Linked DNA regions of Homo sapiens. The protein of the gene in region 3 purifies or fractionates together with the protein of the main gene of each other region. This does not show direct contact. Each region holds a gene or a part of one and is shown on either strand. Other genes may lie near its edges.

Region 1 (7,030 bases), on a different chromosome or scaffold from region 3:
AAAGGGCAAAAATGAAATACCTCACTGTCCCCTAACATTCCAAAATGCTACTTCCTTAATGTACTAAAGTAAGAAAGGATCAGGTACACTAAAATAGTGTTGAAACAGCAAAAACCCCACAAACATCACTAAGTGTTTTCAGCACTTTCCAACAGCATTTTTAACAGTTATCTTCAAAATTTGGGAAGGGACACTCAAAGAAAACCTGGATTACATTTTTATCTTTTCTAACCATTAAGCAAAGCTGATACGGCTTTTCTTTGAATACTGGCATGGACTTCTCGGATTTAGGTTATCTAGGTAAAAGTACCAGAGAATTCTGCAAGTATAGGGAAGATAGGGAAATTTTTGACTTGACAGATAACATACCAAAAGGCTCTATGAACTGATAAAGTTTTTCACCAACTGATATGGCTTCTGTATACTGCCGCAGATGATAAAGAATGACTGCTTGATTATAGTACAACATGCTGTTTTCAACATCATCTAATCCATCCATTTCTTCAACAGCTGAGTGGACCTATAAAGCAATCAACAGAGGTTATATTTTAACATTAAGGAAATAAAAAGCAAAAGTGAAAGAATTCATATGAATAAAAAGGAACATAGGCCAACATTCTTATTCTGAATTTTTCCATACTTTCAACAGTATCTTTAGATTTTAATTACTCTCACATACTAAAAATTATTTTCATTCTTCTGTGCCACACATAATAAAATTTTAGGTAAAATGTTTTCATGAGACTTTATTAAGTACCCAGCACATGGCTAGACAATTATCTTCCTTGTCACTGTGAAGCTATCTTCCCTGTTTCAATTGGTAACACCACTTCTGAGTAGGATTCCCATCTCCTAGTCTCACAACCTACAAGAGGCTACACCAGGCGTGCAACAAACTCAAAATGACCTTTCCCATAAAAATGTCACGTAGTATTCATAGTTTGATTTCATTTTGTAAAAACTAAGGTAAAATTTAAACATTAATAATAGCTGGCCGGGCGTGGCAGCTCATGCCTGTAATCCCAGCACTTTGGGAGGCCGAGACAGGCAGATCACTTGAGGTCAGGAGTTTGAGACCAGCTTAGCCAACATGGTGAACCCCGTCTCTACTAAAAATACAAAATACAAAAAAAAAATTTAGCTGGGTGTGGTCGCACGTGCCTGTAGTCCCAGCTACTCGGGAGGCTGAGGGAGGAAACTTGCTTAAATCCAAAAGGCAGAGGCTGCAGTGAGCCAAGATCACATCACTGCACTCTAGCCTGAACAACACAGCGAGACTCTGTATCAAACAAAACAAAAATAGTTAACTATTTACCATGTGCCAGACTTGCTATGTTAAAACTTTTACAGGTTAATCCTCACCATACCTCAAGGTCATAGATAATTTTTTTTTTTTTGAGATGGAGTCACCCAGGCTGGAGTGCAGTGGCACGAACTCAGCTCAGTGTAACCTCCACCTCCAGGGTTCAAGTGATTCTCCTGCCTTAGCCTCCTGAGTAGCTCGGACTACAGGCATGCACCACAACACCTGGCTAATTTTGTATTTTTAGTAGAGATGGGGTTTCACCATGTTGGCCAGGCTGGTCTTGAACTCCTGACCTCAGGCGATCTGCCCACCTCGGCCTCCCAAAGTGCTTGGATTACAGGCATGAGCCACCGCACCTGGCCGAGGACATAGATAATTTCATTTCCACTTTATACATAAGGAAACCAGCACAGAAAACTTAATTATCTTGCCCAAGGCCATAGGGCTAGAAAGTATATTTTCAGGTTTCGTTCCCGTAAAAAAGAATAGATTTTTTTAAAGTACTCAATAATAAAAATATATTATTGCACACATGATGGTTAGAAAAGGCTTTTATGGGCTTCACTAAAGGCTAACATCTGTAACTGACACAAAAGAAAAAAAAAAAAGCATGACACTTTGCATTCTCAAACTGTATACCCCCTTATGTAAGCTGTAGCAATGGGCTTTTAAATTTTAATCAAGCTTTACAACCATTGCACAATTCCATGTAACACATGAAACTGGAAGTCTACTTGTATTAAAACTAACCTTTGCCATTATGAAGATTGCAATAAATTATTGTTCAATATTAAGTAATTAACTCTAAGACCAACACTTCCATAGAACTCTGATATACAGTACATGGATTTAACAGCCTTGGTTTGACTAATGGCAAGGAACCTGAAGGTTCACTACACACAATGAATTGTAAATTTTGTAACTGGACTTCAGCAGACGTCAACCACCCACGTGGTTAAGCTTGACATGGTTCAAATGTTAGCAAGTGGTCCTAGCTGACCAACATGTGCATCTCAATGAGTTTGGGAACTTTTTATAATCTTCACTTATCAAGTCACTATCTTAAAGAGATTAAAAACAGTATCTTCAAACAGTGAAAACTCAATTTCCAAAGGCAACTCTTTCTGTAGTTATGTAATGGAGAGAGACTGAGTTAAGAAGAGTTTAGCCAGAAAAGCTTTTAGATAAACTATGGCGTTTTGGATTCAGCAATGGTTGAATAATTATCACACAAATAACTTTGCCACATATTCTATGACTCACCAAAATAGTCTAGTAACTGCTCCAGCCAAAAGAAAAACTACTCATTAAGTGAAATTAGACGTTTGCTAATTAAAATGGAATAGGTTGAAAAGGTGTGTCACTGTGCCCGATGTGACTGCGAACAGAAGTATGATTTAAAGAAGTCAGTAACCACAAGTACAAACACTTCTAGGAAACTCAAGAGTTGGAAGGCCCTAACAAACCTTATAAACAATAAAAGCTAGTGAAAGAACTTCACAAAGTTTTTTTGGCCTAACTGGAAGTTTGCAGGAATTGCTTATTCAAAAAAAGTTTAAAGGCTGAACTTATTCTCAAAAACCAAACAAATTTGTCTTGGAAGAAACTGTCTATGGGGTCATAGGGTGCATGTACTAGATTATCAGTAAGCATCATCTTTCTTTTGATTCTGGAACACTAGATAAAATCATCAGTAATAATACTGGAGTAATGAGGAAACGTGAGGACATACAAATTTATGAAGACTGAGACAGGTAGGAGAACAGGCTCAAGAGTCAGAAGGCCTGGTTTAAATCTGTTCTTCCCCTTCCTAGTTGTGTAAATTTAAATTAGACTTCCTAAATTCTGGTTTTAAAACTGAGATAATAAGCACCTACTGCCTCAAGAGTTGAATGTGAGGATTATATGAGATAAGGCATAAAAGGCACTTAATACAGAATTTGGCACCCAGTATGCATTCAATAAATGGTAGCTATTATTCTCATTTTTGAATTTTAATGGGGTTTAAAAATTACTTTATGCCTATAAAGGATTACAGAGAGCCTGAAGGGACAACTTGCTTCTCTACCTGTGTCACACTTTAGGGTGATACTATAGAGTATCATGGTACTCATGATTACAGGAAAGGTCTCATGACTCCCTAACAGCATGAAGCAGTAACTAAAATTACAGGCTATAGAGTTAAATACAACTGAGTTCATGTAGCTCTTACTACTCAAAAACTTTGTGTTTTTGGACAATTTACACAGCTATCTGTGCCTTGGCTTTTCCACTTTTAAAATAAGAAAAATTATATAGCTATTTCATAGGGCTACTGAGAAGAACAAGCTGAGAAGTTGCATACAAGCGCTTGGCAGAGCCCTGTCACACAGTGAACACTTAACATATGCTAGCTGATCCTATCAGCACCATCACTGTTATCAGCCCTCTTGAACACCAAAAGTCTAGCCCCAGGATTCAAGAAACATTGCCATTATCACCAGACCAATCCCCAATTCAAGCCCCAAGCCAGATACAAAGCAGAATATCTTCTATTTAATCAATCATCTCCTGATCCAAATGCTAAAACGACTTGACATTAGGATTAATCATATTTTTTTCATTATAAACAAGATATATCTCCACAGCTAAGCTTCTTCATATAGTTCTTTCTCAAAACTCCAAAGCTCATTCAAATTTGGTATATTAGTCTATTCTGTTCAAGTTCATTAAAACCCCAATTAAAAAAAATGATCCCACAACATACCTTTTATCTCCTGGAATAATAATTTTACGGAAATAAAATTAATGCTAACAAATGTTTCTGACAAGAAATACCAGACAAATCACATTTATTTTCCTTAACTATTTGTGTTTCATAAATTAAAGAACAGAACAATATTTTTTATAGTTAAATTCATTTATGTATCACCTGATTCTTCAGCTGGTTAAGTGTTTGTCTCAAATTATCTGTTGTTGTTTGGTTACTTTTAAAAAACTCAGCTACTGCTGTATTCAAAATTATTTTATAATCATCTTTGTTTATATCTTGTAGACAGGCAAGGTGTTGTAGACAGGCATCATAATTTCCAGACTAAAAAAAAAAAACCACACACACACACACAAAATTACATACCAGCTTTAAATACAGTATATCATTCCAAATATATTTCATTCATCTTTATCTTAAAAGTTCTTAAAAAGAAAGATGTAGTTTCCCTACATATACTAATCAAAGTCACTAAAGCAACATTCATGTCAGTTAAACTGTGGATATTTACTTCCTAAGACTCAAAACCCTGACATTGACACATATAAGACACATATATTGATATGATAAATATACTGGCATATACATATAGTGCTAGCAGGGTATTAATGGCTGAGGCTAGTCAAGAAAGGTAATATAATCACTCCAAATTTTATTTTCTAGTAAATATATTTTAAATACCCAAGCATCAAGTTCTTCTGCTTACATGCACGTAACCTGATAACCAAATAAGGTTTTCTTTCATATTGTTTAATGCCAGAAAAAGTTAAAATTCTGCCAATAAAGTTTTGGGGTTCCATTTTAAAGTACCTTCAAGAAAATAATTTTTGAATCTGATATTTTCAGAAATAAATAAATAAAAGAATTGAACAGCTTAGTGAAATGAAAAGACTGACCCACATACTTACAAATCTAAATTTAAAAGACTTAAAAACAACAGTATATGAGTTAAAACATGTTTACAAAAACTTGGGAATGGCTCCAATTATTCCCATTCCTTTCACCATATTTAAACTCTAAAACATTTATTTTAAAAATTAAACCTACTTATCTCTAAATTAACTTTTGAATTATTACAGAGTAAAAATTGTAAATTTAAAAATTCACTATGAAAAGATTCATACTTGACAGAACCCTACAACTTGAGCAGACTAAGAGAAGCCATTTCTTACTGTGAAAGCTTGGAAAGCATTGGTGGATAACTCCTTCTCTTGATCAGTGATCCCAGAGGACTGACCTGTGCCTTCATGTTTCTCTGCTCCCTGATCTGCAAACACACAAATTTTACAGTTCTTTAGAAATAAAAGTTGTACAGTGGTCCCTCCTTATCCAGTTTCACTTTCTGCAGTTTCAGTTACCCAAGGTCAAGTATGAAAATATCAGATGGAAAATTCCAGAAATAAGCAGTTCTTAAGTTTTAAACAGCAATGTTCTGAGTAACATGATGAAATCTCTTGCCATCCTGCAGTGTCCCGCTCTGTCCCATCCAGGAAGTCAATCATTCCTTTGTCTAGCATTCCATGTTGTATAAGATACCTCCCCCTTGGACACACAGTAGCCATCTTGGTTATCAGATCAATAGGTCACAGGAAGAAAGGTGAGTAGGGTACAGTAAGATATTTTGAGAAAGAGAAACCACATTCAGATAACTGTTATTTTATTACTGTTGTTGTTAATCTCTTACTGTGCCTCATTTATAAACTTTATCATAGTTATGTACGTATTAAAAAAAGCAGTACATAGGTTCAGTACTATCTGTGGTTTCAAGTATCCACCGGAGGACCCTGAATGTATCTTCTGAGGAAAAGGTGGGGGACTACTGTATAGTGAATTTGTCCCTAGTTTTCATCTTGTGTTCTTCCTAATAAAGTGGCCAAAGTTAGGGCTCTCTCAACAATAACTGATTAATGTTGCCAGGCACGGTGGCTCACGCCTGTAATCCCAGCACTTTGGGAGGCCAAGGCGGGCACATCACAAGGTCAGGAGATCGAGACCATCCTGGCTAACACGGTGAAACCCCGTCACTACTAAAAATACAAAAAAAAAAAAAAAAAAATTAGCTTGGCGTGGTGGCGGGCGCCTGTAGTCCCAGCTACTTGGGAGACTGAGGCGGGAGAATGGCGTGAACCTGGGAGGTGGAGCTTGCAGTGAGCCAAGATAATGCCACTGCACTCCAGCCGGGGCGACAGAGTAGGACTCCGTCTCAAAAAAAAAAAAACAACAAAAAACAATGACTGATTAATGTTATAAGCTAATAAGAAGCTACTCCTCTGAAAGCTTGAAAAGGTTCCTATGGCCAAGTTGAAACACAATGAAAACCTGCCCACTTAAATAAAGACCACAAGCCCTGTAGATGAGGACATTCAAGCTGAGAATATTGTGCTCTTTAAAAAATATTAGATCTGCCACCCAGCAATATACAGTCCCACATATTCAAGCAACTATGGCAGGTGCTGGAGATATAAACACACCTACGATGGCTTTAAGAGATTTATAATTTAGTTGGAAAGTAGTAACAATCAGAAAACTACACTGATAAGGGCTTACAGCTAATTTCCAGGCAAGGAATATTTTCATAGGCTCAGAAATCCAAAATATTAACACATTTAAAAAGTTTCTTTAATATGTTAAGTGTCCATATAAATTCACAGTAAAGGTTAATAATCTGTTTAGCTGGGAAAACTACCTCCTACCTCTATAATTTGCTATTTTAAATATTAGATGTTTTGCTTTTTGTTTTAATTTGAAAATAGAATTCCAAAATAAAGGTAAAAATCTCAGCTGAACCAAACCTAAACTACTCAGAGCAAAAGTGTGTTAAGTACTCTAACAAATGCTTCAATACTTTTTATAGTTCTCTCAAGAGTCACTGTTGGCTGGGCGTGATGGCTCATGCCTATAATCCCAGCTACTTGGGAGGCTGAGGCACGAGAATTGCTTGAACCTGGGAGGCAGAGGTTGCAGTGAGCTGAGAT
Region 2 (7,030 bases), on a different chromosome or scaffold from region 3:
CCCTAGGTCAAACAGTATTCTTTGCTTCAGTAATAATATAGTGCCTCATTCTCTCATTTGCCAATTAGTTTCCACACCCTTGGCCCCCACCCTGCAAATACTGAGAAAACGTTCTTTTTAAAAAATAAGATGACTTACTTTTCTGTCTTGAAGAATATTGCACAGCCATCAACATGTTTCCTTTCTTGTTCTGACATTGTCCTAGCTCTAGACTTAGGACTGAAGAATCCATTATAGCCACGTTCTTTCAGCTCTACCAGAAAAAAACTGTAATACTGTTCCGTTTCAACCTCCTGAAAAGTTGTAAACAGCACAGTTATTTCATAAGACAAAAATTAGTCTGCATATTAACTTCTATGTATAGTTTGAGAGCTTGAAATAATTTCAAAGGACTGGTCTGCAGATTAAAGAATGTAACATCTTTCCGGGCCGGGCATGGTGGCTCATGTCTGTAACCCCAGCACTTTGAGAGGCCGAGGCGGGCGGATCACTAGAGCCCAGGAGTTCCAGACCAAGCCTGGCCAACATGGCGAAACCCCATCTCTACTAAAAATACAAAAATTAGCCAGGCATGGTGGTGCATGCCTGTAATCCCAGCTACTACGGAGGCTGAGAATCACTTGAACCCAGGAGGCGGAGGTTGCAGTGAGCTGAGATCATGCCACTGCATTCCAGCCTGGGGGACAGAGAAAGAGCCTGTCTCCCCACCACCCAAAAAAAAAAAAAAAAAAAAAAAAAAAGTAACATCTTTTCAACACTATTTATCTGAAACCAACTGGAACAGCGACTTGTCATTTTACAGGTACTAGGTACCAAGGGCAACTCATTGTTGTTTAAGAACAGTGAGTGAAAGACACACTTCTATGCATGTGTATTTCCTTATGTCTTAGAACTGAGGTGGAACAAGAACCACAGAGGTCGACGAACTTTACAAATCATAACTTCAGACCCTTGGGCAGAAAGTAACATGTTCAAGATCATATGAGTGACTATGAGAGTTGCACTGAGAACCCAAAATGTTCGTGTACCAAGTCAGTCCTTTTTACACGGTGCCTTAATTGTTCTAGCAACATGGTCGGCAATGCAAGTTATAGCTTGACCACGCTAGAATTTCAGTAACTTTGCCACCCAATTCAAAAATAGTGCAGGGACGCTGGAGGGAGGAGGAAGGTGAGTATTTAGCGGTCATGGCAAACGCATAAATCCCAGCTTAACACATTTGCCTATTTTGCAACATAGCACTGCAAAGCAAAGCAGGCAGTACTCCCAGGATTCACTAATAACAGAAAAAAGCAGTACTTTAAGAACTACTGAAGCTAAAACTTCAAATGTGTCAGCGTAATGTATTCCTAGTTGCTCCTTCCTTTATCAATGCTAGGTTGACTGTCTTCTGTCTGACTTACCTGAAGACTTACGATATCAGCATTGCAGCTCAAGATTTCTTGAATAATGGCCTTTTTCCTGTAGTCCCAGTTTAGCGCCCATGATGGACAGTAGCCGTATAACTGCCGGGTCGCATATTTATCACAAAGAACATTATAGCACATGACAGAAAACAAGGCTGTAGGAAAGATAACTTTACTTATTCACACATGTGGCAGAAAAAAATATATAATTAATTTCAGTAATGGTTTTCACTTAAATGTTAAGTTTGACCGTATTCATTCAATCTATAGTCACTGAAAAGCTACTGTACGCCACATATGGGGGATAAATAAAAGACGGATAATGCAAGCAGGATAGATAAGTGAACAAGTTAGAATACAATGTACTACCTGCTACAGAGGTAGGCACAGAAGGTCTGGAAGTGAAAAGTCTAAGCTCGTGAGCCCTTCAGTCTCTGAGCCTAACATTCCTCATTTCTATACTCCTTCTACCATGCTACCAACTGTTAATGTAAGATGTGGAAACTGGATAGGTAGTATCCTTAATAGGCATGCCTCATTTTCTTCTACAGCACAACTATTGTTAATTCATGCAAAATGAAAACGGTATCACAGACCAAATTTTGTTACACGCACCATGAAAGCTCCCAAACTATTTACATAGAATTTAGGTTAAAAGGAGATGAGCAGTCATTAGTTCCACTTTCCTCTAAGTAAGGGTTTGGCTCTCTTATAACTCGGTAGTGTCAAATCCATTTGGAACATGCTAGGATTTGGAAACTTCTCATAGAGAAAAATTTGGGTGTATTCATTTTAAGTGAATTTCATCAGTACACTACAGAAGGGTTTCTCAACCAGAGTCGCACTACTGACATTTCAGGTGAAGTCTGTTGTGGGGGCCTGTGCCGTGTACTATAGAATGCTGAGCAGCAACCCTGGCCTCCATCCACCAGACGCCAGCAGCACTTCTCCCCAGTTACGACCATCAAAATTGTCTCCAGACATTGCCAAATGTCCTCTGGGGGATAAACTGCCCGTTTGAGAAGCACTGCTTTATAGCACACTTTCTATATAGCACAATGTAGTATACATAGAGGTCATGTGAGCAAGAATTCTTTTTTATTACCTCCCAAACCAAACCAACCTTAAACATTTTGTCTTAATGCTACCTGTAATCTAAGCATGCTGACAATACTGTTAGGCTTATAGAGACTGAGCAAAAATAACAGTTAAAAAATAAAAGACTACCAACCAGTTGGCCTTGTCCTATCTGGTTCTTGTAACATAATCCAAGACCTTGGAGGTGGTTGTTCTGTTGTAACTAGTTGAATAGAAAATACAGAATTAAGCAATATTCTTACACGTCTTCCTAATAAAAAGGTTTAAACAAATAACCACTTACTTCTTTTTGCAGTACCTGACAAATTATCAAGCAAATAGTTCAGCAGCCGTCTTGTTCCATCTGGTTCCTGATAAAGGTTCAATATATCCTGGGTAAGGGGATTTCCTGGAAATATTTTTGAAATAAGTAAAATGAAACTAAGTAATAAAATGTTTCAAAATTTTAAAATGTATCAAAATTATCAGATCATCCATAACTATGTTATAGTTACTAGTAAGATGTCAGACTATAGAAAATATTGTTTTTTCAGTTTCTGATATAAGTAAAAATGATTCATACCATGTTCTATATACACATTCAAAACATAATGTTAATGGGCTGATGTCAATCAGAAATGCACTAGCAGTGCTCTATATCTGACCCTGCCTTGCCAACACTTTCAATAATACAGATGGTTATAACAAACAAGAGTGAGCAAAACACGAACGGGGCAGGCAGGTGACTGGGAGAGTGGGTGGGCAGAGGAAACAGTGAAGGGAAGGATGAAAGCCAGCGTAATGCATCAGAGAATCAAAACTCTACAATGTCACAAAGCTAACAACAAAACACCCTAATGACAAATATACACTTGCACTTAGATTTTTTAAAGTCATACTGAACAAAGCAACAAAATGGGGCTGACTTGGCTTAAGAATTAACTCACTAAGGAGGGGGAAAAAATCCCAGGGCCATGAGCCATCTGTAAATTCAATAACTGCTTTGTTCCAAAATGAGAGCAAAAACAATGATTTACATATACCTACAAGAATCTCAAATCCTCTCAGAAGGGTTTCTTATGTACATGAGAAATAAAAGTACAAATAACAACAGTGCAGCGCAGGGTTTCATGGAGCAAAGTTCCTATCCATCCTACACAAGCATTGTGTATTATTCTGGATGCCACAGCGCCATTTTAAGAAAACCAGACAAATTCTGCAGTTTGAAGAAGGCAGATAAAATGGTCAAAGATGTTAACCATACCAAATGAAGAAAAACTAAAGGATATGGTAGATAAGAATGATCAAAACCTAAAGGAAGTGTTTTTTCCTATTCTCTCATAAAAGACTGGACTCAAAGAGCAGAAGGAAGACATGCCTGTAATCCCAGCACTTTGGGAGGCCGAGGCGGGCGGATCACGAGGTTAGGAGATCGAGACCATCCTGGCTAACACGGTGAAACCTCGTCTCTACTAAAAATATAAAAGAAAAAAAAAGCAAAAACAAACAAAAAAAAACAGCCAGGCGTGGTGGCGGGCGCCTGTAGTCCAGCTACTCAGGAGGCTGAGGCAGGAGAATGGCGTGAACCTGGGAGGCAGAGCTTGCAGTGAGCCAAGATCGCGCCACTGCACTCCAGCCTGGGCAACAGAGCGAGACTCTGTCTCAAAAAAAAAAAAAAAAATTTAACAGGAAAGGCCAAGGCCGAATAGAAGAGGTTGGCAAACACTGTTAACTATTTGAGACACCCTGTGCTGTGAGGCAGTGGAGTATCCTTCAAAGAAGCTGAGTTGCATGGATGGGAAAAATGGCAAAGTTCATTTATCTTTAAGATCTTTCGGTTTTAAGATTCTAGGATTCTAAGAATTATAAAAAGAAAAATGTGCTGCTCTAAGTGCAAAGTAGGTATTTGCAGGAAGGCAATTACAAGAGTACCATTCTCTCACGTGTGTGTGGTTCTTTATACCCACCACAGCCTTTTCATGTTTTCACTGAGTCACAATCCCGTGAGATAAGCAGTTACAACCTGAAGCTTATCAGGACCCTTTGTGAAACACATCTTGAGAAAATGAAGTCAACTGAAAACTTCTCGGTATCAGGTAAACAGCTCATTCTAACCAGACCTACAGTGATGCTGTTTTCTTTTTCTTATTTTTTTTTTGAGATGGAGTCTCGCTCTGTTGCCCAGGCTGGAGTGCAGTGGCACCATCTCGGCTCACCGCAAGCTCCGCCTCCCGGGTTCACGCCATTCTCCTGCCTCAGCCTCCCAGGTAGCTGGGACTACAGGCAGCTGCCACCATGCCCGGCTAATTTTTTGTATTTTTAGTAGAGACAGGGTTTCACCGCATTAGCCAAGATGGTCTCAATCTCCTGACCTCGTGATCCACCCGACTCGGCCTCCCAAAGTGCTGGGATTACAGGTGTGAGCCACCGCGCCCGGCCAGGACTTCTTTTAAATTGAAAATTAATCTGCTCTTCACTACTTGGAAACAGAAAACAATATATATGAATAAAGTCAATAACAATAAAATTCTGGAATTAAAACTATACTGAGTCCTGAGAAAGAACAAAAAAGTAAATGAGAAGTTACTTTAGGGTAGATGGAGTAAAAACACTTTTCCCTATTCTTCCCACTAGGTACAACTAAAAGCACTGTATATTATGTGTAAAGCAAACACAAAACTCTGAAAAAAGGAGAGAAGGCAGAATAGCCAAAGACTGCAGGACCTGACGAACGGCACAGGGATGAGTTCCCTGGGTTCACTTTTTGCCTCAGATATGCCAGACATGCAGCTAAGAAGCCAGTAACATGGAAATACCAATGGGTACAGACCCAAAAGAATCCCAACAAAAGCCAAAGGACCAGGGAAGGGCTGCCTAAAAGGACAAAAGTTTTAGATAAGAACCACTGTACTCAAGCTTAACACTAAAGAAAAAAACGTGGTCCCATCTCTACCCATGCCAGCATGAGCAAGTGGAGAGGCTGGTAGACTTCTGCTGCAAGAGAAAGAAAGGAGGCGATATGGAGCTCCCTTCCTCCCTCTGAGGTGGTGTCAGAGGAGGCCAAGGAGAGTCAAGACTTTCACCATCTCCCTGCAATAAAGAGGACACGCCAGTGCGGTGCCTGTGGAGGCCGCGTGAAGAGCCAAAACTACCACCTCCACCAGAAGCAACGAGGAGCCCCCACTCCCAGGTGTCAGCGAAGGCCAAGTGGAACCTGAACTTCTACCTCCACTGGCAGTAAGGAGACAGTGCCTGGTTCCCTTGTCACAGCAGTGCTAGGCAAAGAAAACCAAACTAAAGGGTTTAAACAAGATCTAGAGTTTCATAACATGAGTGAGTCCAGTTTCAAATGAAAATAGCTCATCACACCAAGACACGAAGATATCAAATGCAAAAAGATAAACACAACTTCCAACCCTGAGATGACAGAAACAGAATTACCCAACCAAGACAAAGGAATCATGACAAAAATGCTTCAATGAGAAATTAAAAACATGCTTGAAAACACACACACACACACACACACACACACACACACACAAAACACACAAGAAAACAGGAAGACTGAGCAAAGAAACAAAGTTCAGGCAAATAAAACATTTAAAACCAAATGGGAATATTAGAACTGAAAAATAAAATAAATGAAGGCTAGGCACAGTGGCTCATGCCTATAATCCCAGCACTTTGGAGGCTGAAGCAGGAGGATCACTTGAGGCCAGGAGTTCGAGACCAGCTTTGTTAACATGGCAAAATCTCGTCTCTACAAACAAACAAACAAAACTAGCCAGGCATGGTGGCACATGCCTGTGGTCCCAGCTACTTGGGAGGCTGAGGTAGGAGAGCTGCTTGAGCCTGGGAGGTCAAGGCTGCAGTGAGCCAAGATCGTGCCACTGCACTCCAGCCCGAGACCTCGTCTCTTGATTGACTGATTGATTGATAGATAGATAAGAACACAGACCAACACCACCACCACCACCAACAACAACAAAAAGAACAAAGTCTCTGGGGCTTGTGGGACTATAACAAAAGATCTAACATTCATGTCATCAGAGCCTTGGACGCTGAGGACACGGAGGACAGGGCTGAAAAAGTACTCAAAGCAATAATGGCTGAAGATTCTCACAATATGGCAATAAATATAAACCAACAGATTCAAGAAGCACAGTGAACCCCTACACAAGAAAAACCCAAAGGAATCCACAGCAAGACACATCATAATTAAACTTCTGAAAACTAAAGACAAAGAAAAAACATCTTGAAAGCAGCCGGAGAAAAATGACACCTTACCTGCAGGAGAAAAACAAATTGGAATGACGAAAGATTTGTCATGATAAGCCATGGAAGCCAGAAGGAAGCAGCAAAATATTTTTCAGGTGTCGAAAGAACTGTCAAACCCAGATTCTTATATCCAGTGAAAACATCCTTCAGGAATGAAGGAGAAATAAAGACAATCTCAGAGGACAAAAAACTAACAGAATCTGCTGCCAGCAGATCTACCCAAAGGGAACCACTAGAAAAAGTTCTCTAAATACAAAGGAAATGATAAA
Region 3 (7,562 bases):
TCTCTTTGGGATGGCAAAATAGCTCTCGAAATGGATATTGGTGATAATTATATAACGTTGTAAATGTACTTAATGAAACTCAATTGTACACTTAAAATGGTTAAAGTGGTAAATTTTATATGATGTATATTTTACCAGTTAAGAAAACATAGTTTCCTTCCTTAAAAATAAGTCACTCATAACCTATGGACCAGATCACTCTCATTAGCTCCAGACCCAATTTCCAGCTGAAACCTTGAACCCGATGTCCAGGATGTCCATGATGTCTTTACTTTCCCACGACCACATCTGTTTCCCTCACAAAATCAACTCCTAGTTTCTTTTCCTATAAGCCATGTTTCCATATTAACAGCTTGACCACCCACCAAGTCTATTAGGCTCAGATCATCCTTGATTTTCTTCTCATTCCTGCAGCCAATCATCTCCCCAGTTTTGGTTTTGTTTTGTTTTGTTTTTATCAATCCTACCTTCTACATACGTCTTGGATTTCCTTCCTCTTTTTCATCACTATGGTCACAATCTTAGTTTAGGGACTCATCTTCCCCCTGTCTCACCTGGATTATTGTCATAACTTTTTGCTTGGTCTATCTGCCTCTCCAGTATCCCTCTAGAGGGCATCATCTCATCTTCCACAATCTGTCTTTACAACCACCAGTAGCATTTTCTTACAGCATTTCAAATCTCATCATGCTGCTTTCTTCCTTTAAAACATTCCCTGATGCCCTTGGGATAAAGTCCAAACTCCCTGGCACACGAGGCTCGCTCTCAACAACTTGACCCCCACCTGCTTTTCCAACCACTCACCATCCCGGACCACAGCCACATTGACTGCTCGCTCTACTGTATCCATGCTCTTTTCCCATGTCTTCTTCCTGGAATGCCCTTTTCCAAGGGAACTCCTATTTACCCTCCAAAATCCAGCCAAAATGCCACCTCTTGTATGGATTACTCCTCAGTTCCCACAAGAAGGATTAACTGTTCCCTTCTCTTTGGTAGCTTTGCATATTATAAGCGAGTGTCATTTTGTTTTAAAAGTATTTACCTCCCGATATTGCCACCCTAGAGCACGAGCTTCTAAAGGCTGGAACTGGGACTTGATTCCACTGGGTCTTTTTTCCTAATTACAATTTAGATGAACAAGAGATTTCTTTCTCCTTATTCAAGAGTGAATATTGAAGGAAGTCACTAAAATTAATTTAAAGTGTTTGTAATTTCTAATGCTCTTTGAATTGCTAAAAGTAAACAGAAATGTAAAATACAAAATCTAGAAAATACCTTTTTTAAGACTTTATTTTTTTAAAGCAGTTTTAAGTTCACAGCAAAATTGAAAGGAAAGTACGGAGATGTCCCATATACCTCCTGCCCCCACACATGCATAGCCTCCCCCATTATCAACATCCCTCACCAGAGAGGTACATTTGTTTCTGTGTGTGTGTGTATTTTTTTTGTTTTGTTTTGTTTTTTTGAGACAGAGTCTCACTGTATTGCCCAGGCTAGAGTGCAGTGGCGTGATCTCGGCTCACTCCAATCTCCACCTCCTGGGTTCAGGTGATTCTCCTGCCTCAGCCTCCTGAGCAGCTGGGATTACACGCACCTGCCACAACACCTGGATGATTTTTGTACTTTTAGTAGAGACAGGGTTTCACCATGTTGGCCAGACTGGCCTCAAACTCCTGACCTCAGGTGATCCGCCTGCCCCGGCCTCCCAAAGTGCAGGGATTACAGGCGTGAGCCACCGTGCCCAGCCTATATTTGTTACAATTGATGAACCTACACTGACACATCATAATCACCCAAAGTCCATTGCATTTGTGTTCACTCTTGATGTTGTACATTCTATGTGTTTGGACAAATGCAAAATGACATGAATCCACCATTACAGTATTGTACAGAGTAGATGCACTGCCCCAGAAATTCTCTGTGCTTTGCCTATTCATCCTGCCTATCCCACGTCCAGCCCACACAACTACTGATATTTTTACCTATTTTTGCCTTTTCCAGAATGTTACATAGTTCGAATCATACACTAAGTAGCCCCGCAGATTGCTTCTTTCACTTAATAACATGCATTTAAGATTCTTCCATGTTTATTCATGGTTTCACAGCTCATTTCTTTTTAGCACTGAATAATATTTCATTGCCTGGATGTCCCGCAGTACATGTATTCATTCACCTACTGAACGACATCTTGGTTGTTTCCAAGTTTGGGCAATTATGGATAAAGCTACTATAAACATCTATATGTATGTTTTTGTGTAAACATTTATTTTTATCTCCTTTAGGTAAACACCAAGGAGCACCATTGCTGAATCATATTGTAAAAGTATGTTTCATTTTGAAAGAAACCATCAAACTGTCTTCCAAGGTGGCTGTACCATTTTTCATTTCCACTAAAACATCCTGCAATTGCCACTGTCAGCGTTCTGGATTTTGGCCTTTCTAATTGGTAAGTAGTGGTATCTCATTACTGTTTTGATTTGCATTTCCCCAATGACATATGATGTGAAGAATATTTTCATATGCTTATTCACTATCTGTATATCTTTTTTGGTAAGATGACTGTTAAGGTTTTTGGCCCATCTTTAAAATCAGATTGTTTGTGTTTTTATTGTTGAGTTTTAAAAGATACTTGTATATTTTGGATAACAGTCCTTTATTGGATATGTCTTTTTTTTTTTTTTTTTTTTTTTGAGAGAGAGAGAGAGTCTCCCTCTGTCACCCAGGCTGGAGTGCAGTGGAGTGATCTCAGCTCACTGCAACCTCTGCCTCTGAGGTTCAAGCAGTTCTCGTGCCTCAGCCTCCTGAGTAGCTAGGACTACAGGCACGCATCACCATGTTTGGCTAATTGTTGTATTTTTATTAGAAACAGGGTTTTGCCATGTTTCCCAGGCTTGTCTCAAACTCCTGACCTCAGGCAATCCACTGGCCTCAGCTTTCCAAAGTCCTAGGATTACAGGCGTGAGCCACCGCGCCTGGCCATGGATGTGTCTTTGCATTCATTTTCACCCAATTTGTGGCTTGTGTGCTCATTCACTTGAGGAAATGCCTTTTGATTTTAATTCAATGCAAATATTACCAAAAACGTGATATAATTCCATTTTTAGCTTATTCAAGTAAAGTTCATAAATATTCATTATTCTACAAATATTTATGGTGCACCTTATCACATGTCAAACTCTGACTAAGGATACCAATTACTCTAGTTAAACTGTGACCGTACAGAATCAAGACATCTCTGTAAAGAGAGCAAATTTAATTAACTGATCTGAAAATTTTACCTTTGCTGGCTCACAGTGCTCAATTACCATGTAATTGAAGTGATATGTGATTAATTAAATTTTTTAGCTCCAGCATATTTGGAGTGTTTCCCATGATGTATTAGAGTCAAAAGCCATGGTGTTCTCCCAAGTAATGTATAATATAATAAAAGAGACAGACCTATTACAAAATGAATAGGCAGTGCAGTGGGATAGAAAAAGCACTGAGCTACTATCTGTGTGAGCTGGGAGAAGTATAATAAGTTAAATTATCATCTTGGCCTCACTTTCATTTTTGGTAAGAATGGAGTCATTGGGCTAGAATCTGTAGGTAATGGATTCTTACTGCTATACGTAGAATAACCATTTTGTGTACTAAGGACCAATGCAGCCCTACCTGTAGCTGGGCAGCAGCCAGAGTCAGAGTGATTGGAAGAAAAAAATTGGATCTCCAAGTTGAAGGTCTAGCCTTGGAAGAATCTGTTACTATAAAATGAGAAGCAGAATAAGTAAGCCAGATGAAGAGTTAAACCCGTGCTTGTAGATTTTTGTTGGCTTGGTATTTTTTTGTGTTTAATTCAAGAAGAATTAGAGGCAGTGTTCCCCATTAAGAAAAGACATAAACTGATTAAAAGGAGACCCAAAGAAGGGAATTATCACTGCTCTGCTAAGGGACGTGGAAGGTGAGGGGACACAGCACAGTTGTATATAGAGTGGCCACTAATCCAGCCACACAGCAGCATTTCCATCTGCCTCCTGCCATCTTTCCCCTGTATGGAGAACCACAGGATTTTGGTGATGTTCTATTTCTTGACTTTGGTGACGGTTACAGTATTTGCTTAATTATTATTTCATTATTTACATGTTTTGTGCACTTTTCCAAACCTTTTAATTGTTAAGAATATATGGTACCATGTATTTAAGAATACATGGTACCATATAATAAGAATATATATTTAAGAATATATATTATTCTTTAAGAATATATGGTACCATAATGTCCTGAATGATACCTATGAGAGCAGTCATTTGACTTTGGCAAAAAAATGAGGTTTCTCATGGAGTCAATTTATGCAGCAGACAGAAAAAAAAATCCTTTGAAAGACAAATACATTGTGTGCTTCCTGCCAATAACGATGTAATACTTCCTCGTTTTAGTTAATGAAAAATAACACATACTTTCAAAGTTCTGTAGACTCTAAAAAGAAAGAAAACACTCAAATGAGTCACCTATTTCCACATTCGAGGCTGAGAAGCTATATAAATTTCTGCAGTCACTAGCAGAAAACACCAAATCAACCATAGGTCCAAGAACAATTGTCTCTGGACGGCAGCTATGCGACTCACCGTGCTGTGTGCTGTGTGCCTGCTGCCTGGCAGCCTGGCCCTGCCGCTGCCTCAGGAGGCGGGAGGCATGAGTGAGCTACAGTGGGAACAGGCTCAGGTATGTCACAGCCCACTTACTTAGGGTTCCATTCTTTTGCCATCTGCATTAAGAAATGTGTTTTTCAATTATTTCCCTTCCCATGTTAGCATTGCAGTGGAATTTTCTTTGGGGTGGTTCTTCGGATTATAAAAGCAATATATGTTTTCATCAAGTAGCCATTAAAAGCAGGTTTCAGAATCTGCTCAAATCGGGCTTGAGTTCCAACCCTCCACTCACTATGTAGATAGACTCAGGAAGGTCATCAAACTTCTCTAAGCTTCAGGTTTCCAATTTGGAAGTTGGAGATAAGAATGGTATCAACCAAATGAGGGTGTTGTGAAGCATTCAACACAATACCTGAAACATTGTTTAAATTAAGTTCTTATTTTTATTTATTATAACTTGAGATTCTTTTTCTATAGTATACAGAATATTGCCTCTTAAGATACAACCTGTAAATATACTGTTTGTGTATTTACAATACTGTTTGTAATGGAGATATCTGAAGTCAGAAAACATGGGTAGAAATTACAACTCTCCAACAAGTCAATGACAATAGACAAGGCATTAACATCTGACTTTGTTTTCTCATGTGTCCAGTAGAAAAAATAATATTATGTGTTTTATACCTCATGGGGTATTCTAGTAAGTAAATGAGGTGATAACAAAACCAACTAGCATGTATGTAACAATTGTAGATTATAAAGTACTTATATAGACATTGTGTCATTTAATCCTTAGTTCTATAAAAAGAGGAAACCAAAGTTAAACTGATTAGTGTACTTATTAGTGGTAGAGATAGAAATCAAGGACAAGTGCTTCTGGTTCAAAAATCATGTTCCTTGCAATATGCTTCTTAATAAGCAGTCTAATAAATATAAGCAGTCTACTAATTATTATTTGGTTAACTAATGGGATGATTACTTATAACTATTATTTGTAAATTTAGGCCTTAAGCATAAGAAAAGTCAATTTTTAATTCACATTAACTTAGACTTTTAAAAAGTTCCAGTTATAATAAGTTAGATTGAACCACATAAAGTTACTAGTATTTAACTTTTAAAATCTCCAAAACAGTAGTTTTATATGGTTCCACCTAATGAATTCTCCAGAAAGAGTACTCTGCGTTTAGTTTCTTTACTTAGAGTGAAGGTTGGCAGAAACTTAGTCTTCACTTGGAGGGATGTTAGCTAGGTTTAACAAAAAAACAGGAAAAGTCATCTCAACAAAGCAGAGAGATTTCTTCCAGAGGGTGTCTTGGTAAAGTCTGTAGCTCTAGAAGGGATTAAATGGGTTATTTGTTTTTAAATAAAGGATCAGTTATCAATTGTCATGGATGAACAATAAGTATTTGTTGTATTTAATGAGACAATTGTTGGTAACAGGAAAAAAAGACACAATATTAATAAGATTTCTTACATAAATTGCATATTCCTGGGCGGTCCTAAGACAGGTAACCATTACCATCTACTCCAAATAAACTGCAAATTAGTGAGCCAATGTTTAAATCATTTTAACAACAATATTATCAGGCATCATATAACCCTACACATGTTTCTAATGTATAGAAGTCAGAACACTTGAGTTCAAATACTGGTTCCTTCAGTTACTCACAAGGTGATCTTGTGCAATTTATTTCACTTCTCTGAGCTGTGTTTCTTCATGTATAAAATAGGGATAACAATGCCATACTTGTTTCATAGAGTGGTTATGAGGTTTACATAAAATAAATATGTAAGTGCCTGGCTCTAGTAAGTGCTTAAAAATGTTCCTGTGAGGTTGCTATTGTTGTTAGTTCATTCACTTTTGTTGTTGTTGTATTTGTGCTGCTGGATTCCTATCCTCATATTCAGATACTGAGAAACTTTAGAGAAATTCCCAGGAATCCAACCTTGCATGGAATAAACCTGGGAGTCCTACTGTATACTGCAATCTCCCAAAGTGGGTTTGACTAGAGATTTAACAGCAGAAAGAAGGGCTGGGAATGGAATGAGCAGAAAGAGGGAAAAGAGGACCTAGGAGTCAGGAAAGTCAAGTCCAGTTCTGCTACTAATTTAAGGTGTGAACCTGGGCACATAAATCATTTAGTTGCTATAAGCTTTGGTTCCTTCACCGGATTATTAAATTGAACTATTTAATAATTTCCTAATATCTTTTCCCAGAGCTAAAATTTTAAGACCCTTTAACTTTTAGCTGGAACCGCATCTCAGCTGGACTTTAGATAGGGCTGGTTGACCTCAGATCTCCCCCACAGGGTCTATGATAACACAGAGAATGTCCCAGTCGTACCCCTGAGGACAGACTGGTACATGCTTCCTGATTGCTCTTACACACTTCTAGGCTTTATAAAGTGTACAGTGTAATTCTCCCCAAAACATTTAAATGGATTTTTTAAAAATTGAGGGATTCTTTTCTTTTGCTCACGAAATGGCACGCCAGTGCTTCATTAGCAATATTAAATTTTCTCCTCACTAATGCACACTTATTTTTCTCTGTGACTATGTAATTATTCTGTCTTCAAATCATTATTTGAATTCACAGGAACCAAAGGCAAGAGATATATAGGCTTCTAAGATAAAAGAATATAATAAACAAGAACTATAGATTAATTACTCTCTTTTCAATAGGACTATCTCAAGAGATTTTATCTCTATGACTCAGAAACAAAAAATGCCAACAGTTTAGAAGCCAAACTCAAGGAGATGCAAAAATTCTTTGGCCTACCTATAACTGGAATGTTAAACTCCCGCGTCATAGAAATAATGCAGAAGCCCAGATGTGGAGTGCCAGATGTTGCAGAATACTCACTATTTCCAAATAGCCCAAAATGGACTTCCAAAGTGGTCACCTACAGGTTAGTTTTGCTCTGGCTCATTTTG

The links. Proteins that work in one complex are often made in the same cells at the same time.
Region 1: the proteins of MMP7 (region 3) and CNOT10 purify together in Homo sapiens (affinity purification with mass spectrometry; 3 studies listed by BioGRID and IntAct, with this or other methods). This does not show direct contact.
Region 2: the proteins of MMP7 (region 3) and CNOT6 purify together in Homo sapiens (affinity purification with mass spectrometry; 3 studies listed by BioGRID and IntAct, with this or other methods). This does not show direct contact.

What each region holds. Positions count from the first base shown.
Region 1 is NC_000003.12:32,702,160-32,709,189, reverse strand, and holds part of CNOT10 (CCR4-NOT transcription complex subunit 10), read right to left. Parts: intron 5,323-7,030; coding exon 5,228-5,322; intron 4,380-5,227; coding exon 4,218-4,379; intron 521-4,217; coding exon 370-520; intron 1-369. UniProt on the Homo sapiens protein: Component of the CCR4-NOT complex which is one of the major cellular mRNA deadenylases and is linked to various cellular processes including bulk mRNA degradation, miRNA-mediated repression, translational repression during translational initiation and general transcription regulation.
Region 2 is NC_000005.10:180,560,351-180,567,380, reverse strand, and holds part of CNOT6 (CCR4-NOT transcription complex subunit 6), read right to left. Parts: intron 2,893-7,030; coding exon 2,788-2,892; intron 2,707-2,787; coding exon 2,638-2,706; intron 1,562-2,637; coding exon 1,404-1,561; intron 294-1,403; coding exon 139-293; intron 1-138. UniProt on the Homo sapiens protein: Poly(A) nuclease with 3'-5' RNase activity.
Region 3 is NC_000011.10:102,527,732-102,535,293, reverse strand, and holds the start of MMP7 (matrilysin preproprotein), read left to right. Parts: upstream 1-4,546; 5' UTR 4,547-4,593; coding exon 4,594-4,701; intron 4,702-7,310; coding exon 7,311-7,537; intron 7,538-7,562. UniProt on the Homo sapiens protein: Degrades casein, gelatins of types I, III, IV, and V, and fibronectin. Activates procollagenase.